2 separate regions of the Homo sapiens genome follow, and region 2 is linked to region 1. The links come from fine-mapping of genetic effects on gene expression. A gene starts in region 1. The other region holds a variant in brackets. All regions are shown on one strand. Distances are from middle to middle.

What was found.
Region 2: its variant is fine-mapped to the expression of HOXB13 in sun-exposed skin (GTEx, PIP 0.98).

Annotation. Positions count from the first base shown.
Region 1 is chr17:48,723,939-48,731,938 of GRCh38, forward strand. HOXB13 (homeobox B13) reads right to left here and starts at 4,812. Exons shown (of 2, transcript NM_006361.6): 1 at 4,055-4,812; 2 at 825-3,105. The coding sequence starts at 4,655. The coding sequence ends at 2,852. It overlaps PRAC2 (PRAC2 small nuclear protein), which reads left to right. Exons shown (of 2, transcript NM_001282275.2): 2 at 390-820. The coding sequence starts at 473. The coding sequence ends at 745. It overlaps MIR3185 (microRNA 3185), which reads right to left and starts at 537; the gene lies at 470-537.
Region 2 is chr17:48,698,926-48,707,747 of GRCh38, forward strand. LINC02086 (long intergenic non-protein coding RNA 2086) reads left to right here. Exons shown (of 8, transcript NR_189645.1): 6 at 1,687-1,771; 7 at 5,076-6,425; 8 at 7,134-8,421. Among named protein-coding and RNA genes, the nearest start is that of PRAC1, 19 kb to the right of the region's middle. The variant G/A (reference allele first, on the strand shown) is at 5,348.

The DNA.
Region 1 (8,000 bases):
TGAGGGAGGGGAACGGTCTGGAGGGCAGCTCAGGGTACAATTGCGCCTTGTTAGTGAAAAGGCGCCCTGCTTATTTTCCGGAGTATATGTGTGTGCCTCTGCGTTTATTCGTCTGTGAGCTCATTGTCTGGATTCACCTATTGTGACATTGTGTTCACACGTTTGTCCGAATGGTAAGCAAAACATTTCCTCCTGTAGCTTAACATAGCCCTTATGTAAAAATAAATATCTGCAGGCGAATATAGGTTTGTAGATTTTGTTGTGATTTAAACACAAATAAGTGAGAGATTTCAATGTGGTCGTCCAGGGATAGGTGGGAGACTAAAATTGGGAAGGGATTCCCAATGAAAGCGTTTAATACAAAACGAAATTAAATATTTTTTGCACAGGTTCCATACAAGTAAATCCGAAAAAAAGTGTGTGTGGGGGGGTCCACACCACTAATTATTATGGCGAGGAAGATAAAGAAGACATGGACAGAAGGCGGATGGCTCTGCGGCCTGGCTCCCGCAGACCGACCGCCTTCTTCTTCCATTCGAGATGGCTCGTACCGAACCTCCTTGCCTTCTTCCTGGGTCTCTCGGGGGCTGGACCAATACATCTGCCGATGCCCTGGCCGAATGGCAGGCGACATCGGGTCCTGGACCCCCACACGCAGCTCAGTACCCACGAGGCCCCAGGCCGCTGGAAGCCTGTAGCTCCGCGGACGATGAAAGCCTGCCCGCAGGTTCTCCTGGAGTGGTGAGCCTCTGTCGGAAGGGGGCGCCCACGTCTTTTTAATGGTCCTAACACACCAGTGGAATAAATCTCTAAGATTCCACATCTTTTGTTTGCTCTGAATTTATTGCGAGTGAAAAACAGAGAAAATCCTCAAGTTTAAGTTTCTGATAGCAGAGTGTGGGAGTTAGAGCATGGGGAGTCCAGAGGTTCCAGACCCCCAAAGGTCTCTACCAGGGCCATCTCCGTTAGTGGCGGTGGCAGCCCCTCTTGTGGCCTTTTTCCTCTCTCCAAGGGGTCACCCCGCACCATGCCGCTCCCCCTCATCTATCTTGCCCCCTCCCCACAGGCCCATCTGCGCTGAACTCTCGCCAGTTCCGAAGTCGGCGAGGGAGGGGGTTTACTTGCCCGATCGTTGGTGGGTTTGAGCTTATAGAGGCAGAGGAGTAAGAACCTGCGATATTGAAAGCTACCCACATGGGGCTTCCTTGAAGGAGGACGTGGAAGGCAGAAAGTGACCTGCTCTGAGCGGCGCATGTAACCGAGGACCTTAAGCTGGACCACGGGGCTTGGACGATTTTTTAAATCAGGAAATCGACCTCATCTTCCTCCTCCTCGTCCTCTTCCCCTGAACCCCCAGTCCGCATGCACTCACACTCTTTGGCCTTTTCCCTCAGTCCCGGGCTCCTCTTTGGTAAATAGATTTGTAGGTGTCTAAGTCACGTCCCACCCTCACTCCTTCCCAGGAGAGGAGACAGGGCTAGGATCCCACCCGACCGCGGGCCATAAACACTTGGCTGCGGCGGCCGCCGCGGGGTTTCTAGGAGAGCTGGCTCCGGGAGGGAAATGTCCTCGAGGTAGTGGCGGCCGCGGCCCACCACCAACTGCTCGCCACCGACCCCACTACTCGCCACCGACCCGCTGCTCGGAGCTTCGGTTCTGCGGGTTGTCCAGACTTCAGGCCTGTGCGCTCAATCGTGGAGAATGCGCCGGCAGGCCCCCCACCCCCAGCCTAAGGTGCAGGAAGGACCAGCACGAACCCGCTGGCTTTGCTGCGCGGCCAGGAGATGAGTCCCACCGGGCACTGAGCCCAGGTACAGGACATCAGAGAATGAACACAGAGGCAGAGGCCCTCATGTCCCTCTCAGAGTCCCGGCTCTGCAAAGAGCCCGTCTGTCTCCAGCTTCCAGAATTCCGCACTGTGAATCTGTCTACGTGGACTGGGAAAACAGGGTTGGCACCACTCTGCCACTCCGTTTGTGCCTGGGAAGGGCTAAGTATGCAAGGCTACAAACATCTACTTCACTGGGATCCCAAATGCTCAACAAACCATGACCTGCTTTGGTCAGAACCACCAGAAATATTAAGGGAAGACTCAGAGAGTTTGGGGGAGGAAATTAATGGTGAATTACCCAGGCACTTTCTCAAATCTCTTTTTCTCTGGAAGGAAGGACTGACTAGGGGCAGCCTGCTGGCTTCATTTTCACACGACAGAAAAATCATCGTATTAAGGATGGGTGCTTCCAAGACCAGTGGGTACACCCTATGGGGTGGACAAGGAGGGAGGAAGAGACAGCCTCTACAATTGTCCACCTACCCAGCTGTCAGCTGAGAAAAATGCTAAACGGACATCACAGCCACACAACGAATCTGCCCGTTCCCCTCTCCTCAGTCTTCCTGCTGTTACCAGGGTGAGAGGTGTAATGGAAGGGGGTCTGAGAGAAAGCTTCCCTGCAAAGGGATCGCCTTCCAAATTTATTCATAATTAGCTCAATTCATGAAAGCGGTTTCTAAAGTGCTCTACAGAGCTCTAGATAGAAAATATGAGGCTAACGATCATGGCAGCTAGTACTGGTTATCGTGATTATTGCCACTGTCAGGATGAATGATTATGACTGGGCCAGGTTCTTTGGGAACCCTGGTGGAGTGGGCTGTCACATGGGGTTCCGTCTCCCTGCACATACTGGGTACCCAGGCCGCTCCTGAGGAACAGTCCAGCAGCCAGTGGCCTGGGAAGGGTGTTGTCTCTAGGGGCCTCTCAGCAGAGTCCTTGGCCCCAGCCTGGGCTTGGCAGGTTCCTGGTCTCCCCAGGACACCCCCACTTTCGCTCCTCCCACCCAGGCAAGGAGATCTCTTAAGGGGTAGCGCTGTTCTTCACCTTGGCGAGAACCTTCTTCTCTTTGACCCGGCGGTTCTGAAACCAGATGGTAATCTGGCGCTCCGAGAGGCTGGTGGCTGCCGAGATCTTGCGCCTCTTGTCCTTGGTGATGAACTTGTTAGCCGCATACTCCCGCTCCAGCTCCCGCAACTGCCCCTTGCTGTACGGAATGCGTTTCTTGCGGCCGCGACGAAAGGCGCAGGCGTCAGGAGGGTGCTGCCCGCTGGAGTCTGCGCGGCGTGAAAGGGAGGGAGGAAAAGGCATGGTCAGATACCCACCCATGCAGACCCAGGCCTTGCAAGCCCCAAGCTAAGTCATCTCACAGGTGCACACAGGTCACCCTACAGGCGCACGTGCAATCCTGTTCCTCCAAAGCATACCAGGACAGCACCCTGGCTTCCGGCTTGTTCTCTCACCACCGCTCAGCCTTGGCTCCTGAAGGCCACCCTCACCCATCACTGCTCTCACACCCGCGAATCTGCAAACATACCCACACACCACACACAGTCAGGCCTTTGCCCACCATCACATACGTCCAGTCTTCATGCATTTCCAGACTCTTGGCCACTCTTTTAGATTCTACAGGCAAATTCTGGAAACACGTTTCTGCCCCCACTCCCAATACATGCGCATACACACACACACACACACATTAACCCATCCCAGTGCACACACATATGTCACGGCTGCAGGAAACCTAAATTTTTCTTTGGAAATTGGAAAACTCATCTAATAGAAAGTGAGAGGTTGTATTCTCTACAGTACATCCAATACCTTTTTACCCATCTCCCACACCCACTCCCCACGCACCGAATTGAGAGTTATTTAGCTTTTGTGTAGAATTAGTTTGGAATTGTGCTGGGTAGGGACACCCTGATCCCCACTCAACAGCAAAGAGATCTAAACCTCTCAGACATGTTGAAAGGCTGGTCCCAGGGCCTCCTGGAGAAGTGAGGTGGCCTTCAGGCTTCAGATAGCACCCAGCTCAGGCCCCTCACACTGACCTCCATCCAGGCCCTCCAGCTACTCAGACCTCCTTCAGAGTCCTAATAACCAAGGGAGGAGCACCAAGCTCATCCTCACCAGCTCCAAGTCTCCCTCCTCCTCCTCCCAGGGAAATGCCATTGGGACCCACAACCCCAGGCTCAGAGACAAGGGGACCCAGGGTAATAGAGGTACCTGCAAATGCTGCCTTCCAAAAGGGACCTGGTGGGTTCTGTTCTCCCTGGCAACACATCTGGCTGTTCCAGCCACCAGCGAGAGCCCAAGACTGGTAACTGTCCACAGGCAACAGGGAGTCATGTCGCGGTTCTCCAGGAGCACCCAGAGTCTGCACCACAGACACGTCCAGGTAACTGGCCATAGGCTGGTAGGTTCCCGGATATCCCGGATAGAAGGCAAACTCAGTGGGGCGGCTGGGGTACTCTTCCCCGGCCGTGGGAGTCTCCGCGGGGTACGCGGCCAGGGTGGCTGCCTGGGCACAGGGTTTCAGCGAGCTCCGGGACACTCGGCAGGAGTAGTACCCGCCTCCAAAGTAACCATAAGGCACGGGAGCTGGGGACGTCCCCTGGGGCACCCCAGGGCATGGGTGGCATTGCTTTGGCGGCTCCGCCGAGCCTGGCAGATCCAAGGGGGCATAGTTGACAGCAGGCATCAGCGTAGGCGCCGCTGGGTGGCTGGTCAGAGGGGAGTGGGCGACCAGATTCCGCCCCCCTCCCGCTCCCAGCAAGCCTTCGATATCCTTGGCTCCATCCAAGGTGGCATAATTGCCGGGCTCCATGGAGCCGAGGGTCGGCTCATGAGGTGCGGGGGCGGGGAATCTAGGGGGCACCCAGCTCGCTCTCCCCACCCAGGCCGGGGGAATCCAAAGCGTTTTAAATCGCTCCCAGCTCGCAAGTCGCCTGCATTCGCTCAGCACGGCCGTCTTGACGCAAGAGACGCAGGGGCCCGGGCACGCGCGCTGATTGGCTGCGGCCTGGGGGAGAGAAGCTAATAAAATCCTAAAGGCAGAAACTGCGAAAATACTTTACCCCAGCTTATTCTCTCTCTCTCTCTCTCTCTTTCTCTCTCTCTCTCTCTCTCTCTCTCTCTCTGTCTCTGTCTCTCTCTCTCGCTCTCTCGCTCTTTCTCTCCTCTCTCTCTTCTCCCTCTCTCTCTTCTTTTCCCTCTCCACTCCTCTCTCTCTCATTCCACTTAAAAACAACAAGAGAGAAAAGGAAGGAGGTGTCCTTTCGCTGCTTTCCAGTTTGCAGAGTCTCATTTACACGTCCGGGGGGAGGGGAGGCGTGGTGGGCGGAGGAAGAGGGGACGAGGAGCCGGGCCCCACCTCCTTCTCCTCCTCTCCCTCCCTAGCTTTCTGTCTCCTGCGCTTTGACAGGTTTAACGAGAGAATAAAAAGCTCTCTCTATAAAGTGTCCATCTCCTGGGGGGGAAGGGGAGTCGGGGGTGGGGCTGGGAGGCCGCTCCCGGCCTCAGAGGAGAACCCGGGAATGCGCCTGTGTAAGAGGAGGCTGGGAAATGGGGGTTAATAGGTATTTCTGGCAGCCCCTGGCTTTGGGTCCTGGGTACTAGCACCCCAGTTCATTCCCGGTACCCTTCCTGTCCCAGATGTCCTGGAATGAGCTGCTCCGGGCCCCAGGGAGGTGCCCTGGACGCCCCTTACCCAGGGACTCGCTACTGCCCAGAATGCTCTGGAGGCCCTGATTCGGGTGAGGCTGAGGGAAGAGGCGGGAGACACGAACGTAGACGTAGAAGACATGCGATCTGGATGGAACCCAGGACACTCCACTTCCGGACCTGAAGGGGAAATGGAGCCTCTAGAGTGGCCTGTGGAAGGGTCTGGATTTCCCTTTAAGTAAAGACATACGGAGGGACGGAGACCCACAGGACTTGAGGGAGGGACGGGGAGAGGGAGAGATGAGACTCAGGGACAGCAACACAAAGAGGGAAAGAGAGAAGCTGACAGAGCGGATGGGACAAAATCTTGTAAAATCCTGAAGTGTCAGTCAGAAAAGAGAAAGAAGAGAGGCACTTTCCCCCTTTTTTGGGATCTAAAGAAGTCTGAGGAAGCCAAGCCTGGCTGACTGCCAGAAACCAGCTGCGGGAGTTCTGGACCCCAAGAATACAGACGCCTGTGTGGAGATGCCAGTCTCCCTGCCCTGCAGTCCTCTCCCTATGGTCTGCAAGGGGCCCAGGAAACTGTCCCTGATACTGGCATACTCCCACACAAGCTGAGTACCCAGAAAGCCCAAGACCCCTATCTGCCTCCTGCAAGCTTTAAACTTCCTTACAAGGAAAAGGGAATGGAAGGGGAAACCCCAGCCACTGGCAGAATTGCTTGAGGCCCCTCTGTTGGGGCCTAATGTGCAGTGCAATTCAGAAGAATCAAACGGTTTGTTTCACAAATCTGTCTTTAGAGGTTTTCCGCTTCCTTTACTACCCCTCCCAAATCAAATCCTTCTGTCTGCTTTTTCTAGAACTCCCAGTTTTTCTGGAGAAGACAGGAATGTTTCCATTCTACACGAGGGTCTTGACAATTATATGGAATGGCTTACCCTAAACTCTGGGCAGACTCAATCATAGCCTCTCACCAACCTGACCTTGAACTTGAGCCACTTTGTGGGAAAGGGCCCACAGGCAGTAGTGTACATCACTCCTAATGAGCATTGCTATAATTGAAGACACCAAGCACGAAATCTTCACTAGATCGCATTTGAAAACAATATGGAAGAAAAGGGAGGAGATGTCTCTTCAGTGCTTTCCAGTTTCTCACCAGAGTTTCTTGCTTGTCTAATTATGAACTGCAGAAATATCCAGACTTTTACCTAAAGACTAAGAATTTTTCACCAATTTTTACTTGGTAGATGATAGATATGTAGGGCATGTCCACAGTTTTAGTTTCCACTAGGCAAACACCCACACATGCACATTTATTCATCCTTGTACAGTAGAGGCATTAATAGATCCCTAAATTTAAAAAATAATAATAGTCATAGTCATGCCCTATGACCCAGCAATTCCATTCCTGGGCATAAACCCAACAGAAATGAACCTTTATATCCATCAAAAGTCATGTACTAGTAGGTCCACAGCAGCTTTATCTGTAGTTGCTCAAAGCCACCCATGGCAGCGCACGCCTGTAATCCTAGCTACTAATCCTAGTGGAGGTGGGAAGATCGCTTGAGCCCCGGTGTTCAAGACTAGCCTGGGGCCAGGCACAGTGGCTCAGGTCTGTAATCCCAGCACTTTGGGAGGCCAAGGCAGGTGGATCACTTGAGGTCAGGAGTTCGAGACCAGACTGGCTAACATGGTGAAACTCTCTCTATACTAAAACTACAAAAAAAAAAAAAAAAAAAGCCAATTGTGGTGGTGGACACCTATAACCCCAGCTACTCAGGAGGCTGAGGCAGGAGAATCGCTTGAATTTGGAAGGCAGAGTTTGCAGTGAGCCGAGATCGTGCCACTGCACTCCAGCCTGGGTGACAGAGCAAGACTCCATCTCAAAAAAAAAAAAAAAAAAAAAAAAAAAAAAAAAAACCAGCCTGGGCAACAGGGGTAATAGGGATAATAGGGATACCCCATCTCATAATGAAATCAAAATATAGTAGCTCAAAACTAGAAACAACCCAAAAGTCTATCAGCAGTAGCATGAATAAAGAAAGCACAGTATAATTATACAATGAAGTACTACACAGCCATTTGAAAAAGAATAAACCACTACTACACACAACATTGATGAATCACAGATATGTGGATGAAAGAAGCCAGACACAAAAGAGTAACTTTTGTATGATTCAGTTTCTACATTTCTATGCAGTTCAATGACAAGCAAAATTATGGTATAGTGATAGAGGTCAGAATAGAGATTGGCATGGGGAGAGGTCTCCTGACTGGAAAAGGACATAAAGAAGCCTTCTGGGGTGCTGGAAATAGTCTCCATCTCAATCTGTCTGCTAGTTACAAGACTTTGTTCACTGTGAAAATTCATCAAGCTATACACTTGGTATTTCTGCACTTTATTGCATATCAGCTATATCTCAAATGTTAAGGAAAATAATTAAAAACAAAAATTTTTTTAATTCATTGCAACACTTCCTGAAACTGTGCTTTTGGATGTATAGCATTC
Region 2 (8,822 bases), 25 kb before region 1:
GGATCACTTAAGTCTAGAAAGTCGAGACTGCAGTGAGCCATTATCATGCCATTACACTCCAGCCTGGGCAACAGACTGAGACCCTGCCTCAAAAAGAAAAAAAAAGAAATATTACTTCTCTTTACATCCCTTTGCCAGCCTCCATTTATAATATGATTGCCTTAAATATTTCCTCTGCATATTTTTAGAACCACAACAGACTGTATTGTAATTTTTGCTTCAACTATCAAAAATAATTTAGAAAACTCAAGAAGGGGCCAGGTGCAGTGTCTCATGCCTGTAGTCCCAGCACTTTGGGAGGCCAGGGTGGGTGGATCACGAGGTCAGGAGATCGAGACCATCCTGGCCAACATGGTGAAACCCCGTCTCTACTAAAATACAAAAACAGCTGGGCATGGTGGCGCACGCCTGTGGTCCCAGCTACCTGGGAGGCTGAGGCAGGAGAATAACTTGAACCCGGGAGGCAGAGTTGCAGTGAGCCAAGATCACACCACTGCACTCCAGCCTGGCTAGAGAGTGAGACTCTGTCTCAAAAAAAAAAAAAAGAAGAAAAGAAAAGAAAAAGAAAGAAAAGAAAGAAAGAAAACTCAAGAAGAAAAGGAGGCCAGATGAGGTGGCTCATGCCTGTAATCCCTGCACTTTGGGAGGCCAAGGCAGGCAGACCACTTGAGATCAGGAGTTGAAGACTAGCCTGGCCAACATGGCAAAATCCCGTCTCTACTAAAAATACAAAAAAATTAGCCAGGCACGGTGGTGGGCGCCTATAGTCCCAGCTACTCAGGAGACTGGGGCACGAGGATCGTTTGAACTTGGGAGGTAGAGGTTGCAGTGAGCCAAGATCCTGCCACTGCAGTCCAGCCTGGGTGATAGAACAAGACTCAGTCTAAAAAAAAGAAAAGAAAAAGAAGAAAAGGAGGCTGGGCATGGTGGCTCACACCTGTAATCCCAGCACTTTGGGAGGCCGAGGCGGGCAGATCACGAGGTCAGGAGATCGAGACCATCCTGCCTAACATGGTGAAACCCCATCTCTACTAAAAATACAAAAATTAGCCAGGTGTGGTGGTGGGCACCTGTAATCCCAGCTACTCAGGAGACTGAGGCATGAGAATAGCTTGAACCTGGGAGATGGAGGTTGCAGTGATCCAAGATTGTGCCACTGCCCTCTAGTCTGGGTGGCAGAGTGAGACCCTGTATTGAGGAGGAGGAGGAGGAAGAAGAGAAGGAGGAGGAAGGGGGAGGAGGAGGAGGAGGCGGAAGGGGAAAGGAAGGGATGGGGAAGAAGAAGAAGAAAAGTGTTTTTGAACAATGAGAATACGTGGATGGGGAGGGGCAATCACACACCAGGGTCTGTTGTGGGGTGGGGGGCTGGGGGAGGGATAGCATTAGGAGAAATACTTAATGTAGATGACGGGTTGATGGGTGCAGCAAATCACCATGGCATGTATATACCTATGTAACAAACCTGCACATTCTGCACATGTACCCCAAAACTTAAAGTATAATAAAAAAAAAGAAGAAGAAAAGTGTTTTATATTTAACCATGTCTTTGCTCACTGTGTTCTTTCTCCCTTCCTGATGTTTGTTTTCTTTCTTTTTAGAGAAATTTATTGTGCTTTACCCTTTATTCCTGAAATATAATTTCACAGGCAATAGAATTCTGGGTTGACTATTTTTTTTTTCTTTCAGCACTTGAAAATATTGGCTATTTCCTTCTGACCCCCATGGTTTCTTTTAAAAAATTTGCTGTTGTTTGAATTATTTTTCTCTACAGGTAAGGTTCATTTCCGTCTTGCTGCTTTCAAGAGTTTTCTTTGCCTTTACTTTTTTTAAAAAAATGTTTTAAATTTTATAGAAACAGGGTCTCACTGTTATCCAGACTGGTCTTGAACTCCTGGACTCAAATGATCCTCTTGCCTCAGCCTTCCAAATTACTGGGATTACAGACATGAGCCATCATGCCCGGCCTGCCTTTAATATTTAGAAATTTGGCTTTAATATATCTTGGTATTTCTTGAGTTTATCCTGTTTTGATGTGTTATCTTGTTCACTCAGCTTATTGAATCTGTAGGCTAATGGGGCTCTTTTTTGCCAAATTTGGGGAGTTTTAAGCCATTACTTTTTTCTATTTTTTTTTTTTCTTTTTGAGATGGTGCCTTGCTCTGCCACCCAGACTGGAGTGCGATGGCGCGATCTCGGCTCACTGCAACCCCTGCCTCCTGGATTCAAGCGATTCTCCAGCCTCAGCTTCCTGAACAACTGGGACTACAGGCACCTGCCACCACACCTGGCTAATTTTTGCATTTTTATTAGAGACGGGGTTTCACCATGTTGGCTAGGCTGGTCTCAAACTCCTGACCTCAAATGATCCACCCACCTCAGCCTCCCAAAGTGCTGGGATTATAGGCGTGAGCCACTGCGCTCCGCCAGCCATTACTTTTTGAGTACTTTTTTTAGCTGTGCCCTCTTTCTCATTTCTTCCAGGATTCTGATGACATGAATTTTAGATCTTTTCATCTAGTTCCACAGGTCCCTGTGGCTTTTTTCATTTTCTTCAAACTGTTTTCTCTCTGTTTCTCAGATTGGGTGATTTTTAATTATTCTATTTTCAGGTTCACTTGTTCTTTCCTCTGTCCCCTCCATTCTACTGTTTAGTCCATTTACTGAGGTTTTTTTACTTCGGTTATTATGTTTTTCAGGTTTAAACATTCCATTTAGCTCTTCTTTATATTTTCTGTTTCTTTACTAATACTTTCTATTTTTTTTGCTTTGTTTCAAATGTGTTCTTAATTATTTGTTGAAGCATCTCTCTGATGGCTGCTTTAAAATCTTTGTCAGATAATGTTAACATCTGGTATCTTTGTATTGTTGATTGTCTTTTTAAAATCAGTTTGAGATTTTTCTGATTCTTGGTAACATGAGTGATTTTCAGTTGATACCTAGATATCTCATATTATTTTATAGGCTCTGGATCTTATTTAAGTCTTCAGTCTTAGCTGGTTTTCTCTGAAACTGCTCCTACAGAGGAAGGGTGGGGGACTGTTACTTCTTTATTGCCAAGTGGTGGTAGAAGTCCAGCTTCTCCACTTGGCCTCCATTGACACTTCAAGGAGTGGGTGTTTCTCATTACTGCTGGTCAGGGGTGGGCGTTCTGCCTCCCCACATGGTTTCTGCTGATATCATGGTGGGGATAGGCTTGTTACTACTACGTAATGGTGAAAGTCCTGCCTCTTTACTAGGTCTCTACTCTAGTGGAAAGGGAGAAGGACATCTCGTTGCTTCTAGGTGAAGAGTAGGTTTCCGATGTAGTCTCCACTGACACAGGTTGACACTGAGGAGGTGGGGGTGGGACCCAGGGACATGGGTACAGGCCTGCAAGGATAAAAGTCCCTGATCTCTACATGGCCTCCTCTGACACCACCCAGTAGAGGTGCCGGGGGGCCTTGTTACAGCTTCGCCTTCAAAAGCGTGAAAGTCTCAGCTTCTCCCTCAACCTTTGCTGGTGTGAGTGGGACCAGTTTTTTTCTGTAGCGTTTGATTGGCGCGGAACTGTTATTGTCTTCAAAGTTTTCTGTCTTGCTGGGCTGTCCCTTTCCTAGTCCTTTGTCTAGTGAGAGCAGGCTTTTTTTCAGGCTCCTCTTTCTCCTTCTTATTCTTCTCCTCCCGTCTGAACCCATTGGCATTTCTAGGTTGCTGCTCCAAGCCTTGGATATATGACACCGTAATAAAATCGAGAGAATGCACCACCATGTTTTCCTCAGCCCAGGTCCATAGCCTGTCTGCCATCTTTGTATCTTTCCTAGTCTTCTAATGTCTGTTTTATAGACAATGTCCAGAGTTCTTAGCTGTATTTAGGAGGAGGAATAGGGAGAAGTACAGCTCCTCTGTATTCCTGGAGTGGAATTCTCTGCCTCTCTGATTTTAAACAAGCCAAACTCACAAGAGGGCAAGCAGAAAGCAATTTCATTCTTTCTCACGACTATCCCTTTCAATCGGGCCTGTGGCTTCATTCTTCTAGATGAAATTTCAGGCAGATTCATAGCCTTTTCAATCCCTTTCAGTTATAAATATGTGCATGTGTGTTTGTTCGTATTAACATCAATCCTCTGAACTCTTGTCCAATCTAATCTTTTGCCCTCCCAAACTTGGACTTATCTCAGGGCCTATCTATATCTATGGTAGAAAGAGGGGCTCTTGGGGGTCTTGGTTAGCTTCTTTGCTATTTCCCCTCCTTACTCTTTTCTTCTCCCCTGTCTCCCTTTTTCTTTTTTATTTATTTTTAGAGCTAGAGTCTCGCTACATTGCCCAGGCTAGACTCAACTCCTGGGCTCAAGCGATCCTCTTGCCTCAGCTTCATGAGTAGCTGGGACTACTGCAGGCAGCTCCCCTTTATTTTCTGTATTGCATCTGGCTCCGCTAGTGTTGAAGTGAGAGAGATCAAGGAGAAATACAGGGCAAGAAAAGATCCTGTGTCTGTTATAGTTTTAATCAGGTGTTGGAGCTCTCCAGATGTAGCCAAAGGCCAACTCTTTTCTATGGGGCCCATTTGTGGATTTTTCAGTTCCTCCCATTTCTGGTTATTATTTGGAATCAGAATACCAATAATTGAAAAGAAATAGCATTTCAAGCAAGGGAATATCTGTTCTGGCTTGGAAAAAATCTATTTCATACACATTTTCATTTTTAGAAAGAATATTGTTGTTTAGAAGGAGTATTTAAAAGTTTATATTTAGAATGCTGTCGAAAGTTCCAAATTATTTGTTAAATATTTAGAAGATTTTATAGAAAAGGAGCATTTCAAATAAAACTCAAGTATTAAAGAAGAATATCAATTAGGCAATAATACCAATTAAGCATAAAAAAAGAGAATACCAGTTAGGCAACCCACTCTCCTGTTGGGCTGTGAACTGGCCATGCCCCTTTTTGCCTACATTTTTTGCTCATGCCATTCACTGGCTGAAATGCCTTCCCCTTCCTCTAGCCAAATCCTGCTTTTCCTTTGAGGCCCAAGTAGCACCTCCTCATGAAAGCCTCCCATGACTACCCCAACTCACTTCTCTTTTTCCTCTCGCATTTAGGTATTGACTGCTGCCTCATGAAGGCTGGTCCTGTCTCTATAGTGAATATTGTGCACCTCAGGGTAGAATGGAGAGCAGAAGACTTCAAATCAGGCAGTCTGGGTTCAGACCCCAATTCTAGTGCTAAATAGCTACGTGACTTTAGGCCGATTGTGTGTGACTTCCCTGAGCCCCAGTCTCTTTGCCTGCAAAATGAGAAAAATTATAACAATGTCATCGGTTGTTCTGAGGATTCTGAGAGGAATTAGTAGGAGAGAGAACTAAGAAGCTGC[G/A]GGCCTCTACAGAGCCATTCAACTGGCATTTCGGAAGATGTTGCCCATCAGAGTCAGACCTTCTTAGCATCTTCCGGCTGGGCCCAAACTTCCCAAGACCATTTGGACAAGGTCATCTCTATCCCACCATGGCCTCCTCCCAGAGGAGGAGAAGAATCATGCTGTTACAGCAGAACCGAAGATTTGGGCAAGGGAGCTAATGATTATGTTCTGCGTCAGGTCAGAGATGGGCTGGGAAAGCCACTCCAAAGCCAAGACAAGCAGTTTCCTGGAAAAAGAAGGCTGCGCGGAGCCCAGAGTGGCCTGGATCCTGCCTCATTTCCTGGACCAGCTCCTTAGGTGGTTACTGGATTGCCAATAAAGCAGAGCTTATTAAAGTCAACGAGCTCAGGCTTCATCGCCGCCATGGTATCCAAGCACCAGTCTGTCTGGGATTTCATTTGCCAGATGGACAAAGGAGAGGTTGTTCCAATACATATCCTGAGTGGTGGGGGTGGGGAGAGAAGGGGAAGAATGCTCTCTAGAGAATTCTCTTTGTCCTCTGAAGTAAATAGAGATCATGTCTTCCCCAGCCACACTCAGTGATCTGAATCTCTTGGACTGTGGATTTTTCCTTTACCTGCTGTGAAGCCTTGAAAAGTATGAATTAGCTTGATAATGATCCTCTAAAGATGTTCAAGAGTTAAAGACGTGTTTAAGTTCTTCAGGCAATCCAATATGACTACGGGTTTCCAAAAATTTGAAGGAAACTGAAAATCATAGTTCCCAAACCAGATATTTTCCGGTGTCCAGATGTTCACTGGCATGCAAACCAAATGTCTGGATTATGAGCTCCTTTTTTCATTTCTTTTTATCAGCTTACATCCAGATGTTGGATCCAACTGGTCAGAGGCCTGGGGCAGAGACAGAAATCAAATCTAGGGTGTTCATCTAGAGTCTCCTGCTCCTCCATTCCTGCTTCCTCCTCACGCTGCCCCCACATCCTCCCCAACTCACCTTCATGCTACATCTCGGCAAATACAGCTCATATCCAGGCACGGTGCAGCCCTTGACAGCTGGGTCCGCAAAGGCAGATCGGGTATATCTTTAAAGAAAAGTTATCTTAACCATTGAGAAGCCTTCCTTCCTCAGAGGAGAGCACCTCCCCAGCAGACCTCCGAGGAGACCAAGGGCAGGACAGGAAGGGTGAAAGGAAGTTTCAGGACTGCAGGAAATAAGAGCTTGGAGGTCAAGGGAGAGATCAGATAAAACATGAATCTGATCAGCATCCTAGTGGTCTAGAGTGGAGACAATCTGCGGAGTCAACCTCAGTAAGGACACACATAGAGAAGAACCAAAGCCTCTAAAGACGAAGCTGAGAAGTGTACGGTCGTAGAAGACTCGTGTCTGTTATTCTTAAAAGCTCAAGGAGGTATAAACTGCATAAGATTTAAATGGAGGAACACACGATCTTACTTGCTTTCAGAGGATTTTGGGGTCCCCATTCTCCCATTAGCAGCCAGGCAACTCTCTCTGTCCTCTCCAAAGGGAGGAGTGGAAAGGCTTCAAAATCCCTAGGAAATAAATGTCCCCTCCACCCAAAGTCCAGTGTGTAGCCTGAGGACAGGACTTTCACTGAGAGAAATATATAAAAGAAGGGGATAGAAGCCAGGCACCCAGGTGGTGGGTAACAGAAGGGAACTTTCTAGCTGGTTTTATTTAGGGAGGGCATCCTGGGCAAAAGTCAGAATGCAACTTTTTTTTTAAACCCCTTTTAACAAGATGCTGTTGAATTCCTCTTTTGCAGATGTTCTGCCAATTGAATGGAAACTGTCCATAGTGGGGAGCAGAGAGCCTCATCTTTTCTGGAACTGAACATCCATCCTTAAGGCCAGATTTCTCCCATCACCAACTTTAACTCCTGCCCTAGCCCTCTCTCTTCCTTTTCAAAACCCTCTCCACCCAGGAAGGGAGATTCTGGAGCCAAGACTGTACCAGCCACACCTCCCCAGAGTTGTTAAGGAAGGAACTCGAAGCCAGGGGTGGTCTTCTGGCAAGCACCCCCACTACCAGTAGCAGGACAGATGTGTTTCTAATGGACTACACTATCCCCGGAGGTCACATGATTCAGGCTGCCAAGGGTACCTGCCCTTGGGAAATCAACTCCCGAAGATAAATTGGGATTGGGTCCTGAGAAGATCCATGGAAGCCCAGAGGACCCTGCCTCTCTCTGTTGCTTCATGCTGTAGAGGCAGTACTGGGGAGGGCCTGCCCCACATCCGGCAGGGCAGCTGGAACCATGTGTTTGATGACACTCTGCTCCCTCAATGTGGAGCCTCATCCTCATCTCACAGTCTAGCAGGCCTCTGGTGGGTTAGGCTTGTCTCACCCAGTGTGTGAGTTTTTTTGGAAGTGACCTGATTTTGGAGTTTCCCTCCAAGCCTTTCTCAGGTACATGCTTTCTCTTTTATTCTGTCTTCTTTTTTTGATCTTCTTAAATCTGATTTTCTCCTTTTTCCCTCTCTTGTCTCCATCTTTTTTCCAGTCTCTCGCTTCTCTTTATTTCTCCCCATATTTCACTCTGTTCTCTCACCCCAACCTTTCCCTTCTGTTTCTCTCCCTCCCTCTCTTCCCACCCCCTGCCTGGCCTTCCATATATCAAGCAGAGTTTTATCACCTTATGCAGGGGCAGCCCTGCCACCTGCCATAAAGTTGATAGGCTAATGACATTTTGTGGATATTGCCATGTCACAAGTCCAGGACAGCATCAAAAATAGCCCTGATGTCTAAACCACTTCAGCTATCTTTTTTATTTTTAAAATAAATACATTCACATGCTTTTAAGAAACTATAAAAATATATAAAGTAAAAAGATCTTTCTCTCACACTGTCTCCACCTCTCCTGGTCTCACCGTTGTGCTTAGGGGAAACCATTGTGATTAGTTTCTCCTGTGTCCTTCCAGAGTGTCTTTATGCAAATGAAAATTATTGTGATAATATATTCCTATTTTCCCCCTTACTACACAAAAGATAGACTACCATAATCCCATTCTGCACTTTTTTTTCACTTGATAATAAAAACATGATTTTATTAATGGGTGTTTATGGAGTGATTACCATGTGCTATGTGCCTGCTGGGCACTGCAGAACATACACTGGTGAACAAGACACAATCACAATCCCCGTATTCAAGGATCTGAAGACCGTCTAGTGACAAAGCCCAACAGGCTCATCTACATTCAGCCATGCGATAGAGGGCTGAATGTCTTTAAATAAGTAAAGTCGGCCAGGCATGGTGGCTCCTCCCTGTAATCCCAGCACTTTGGGAGGCCGAAGCAGGAGGATCACTTGTGTCCAGGAGATCGAGACCAGCCTGGGCGACACAGTGAGACCCTGTCTCTACAAAAAATAAAAAATTAGCTGGGCATGGTGTGGTGGTGTGTGCCTGTAGTTCCAGCTACATGGGAGGCTGAGGTAGGAGGTTTGCTTGAGCCCA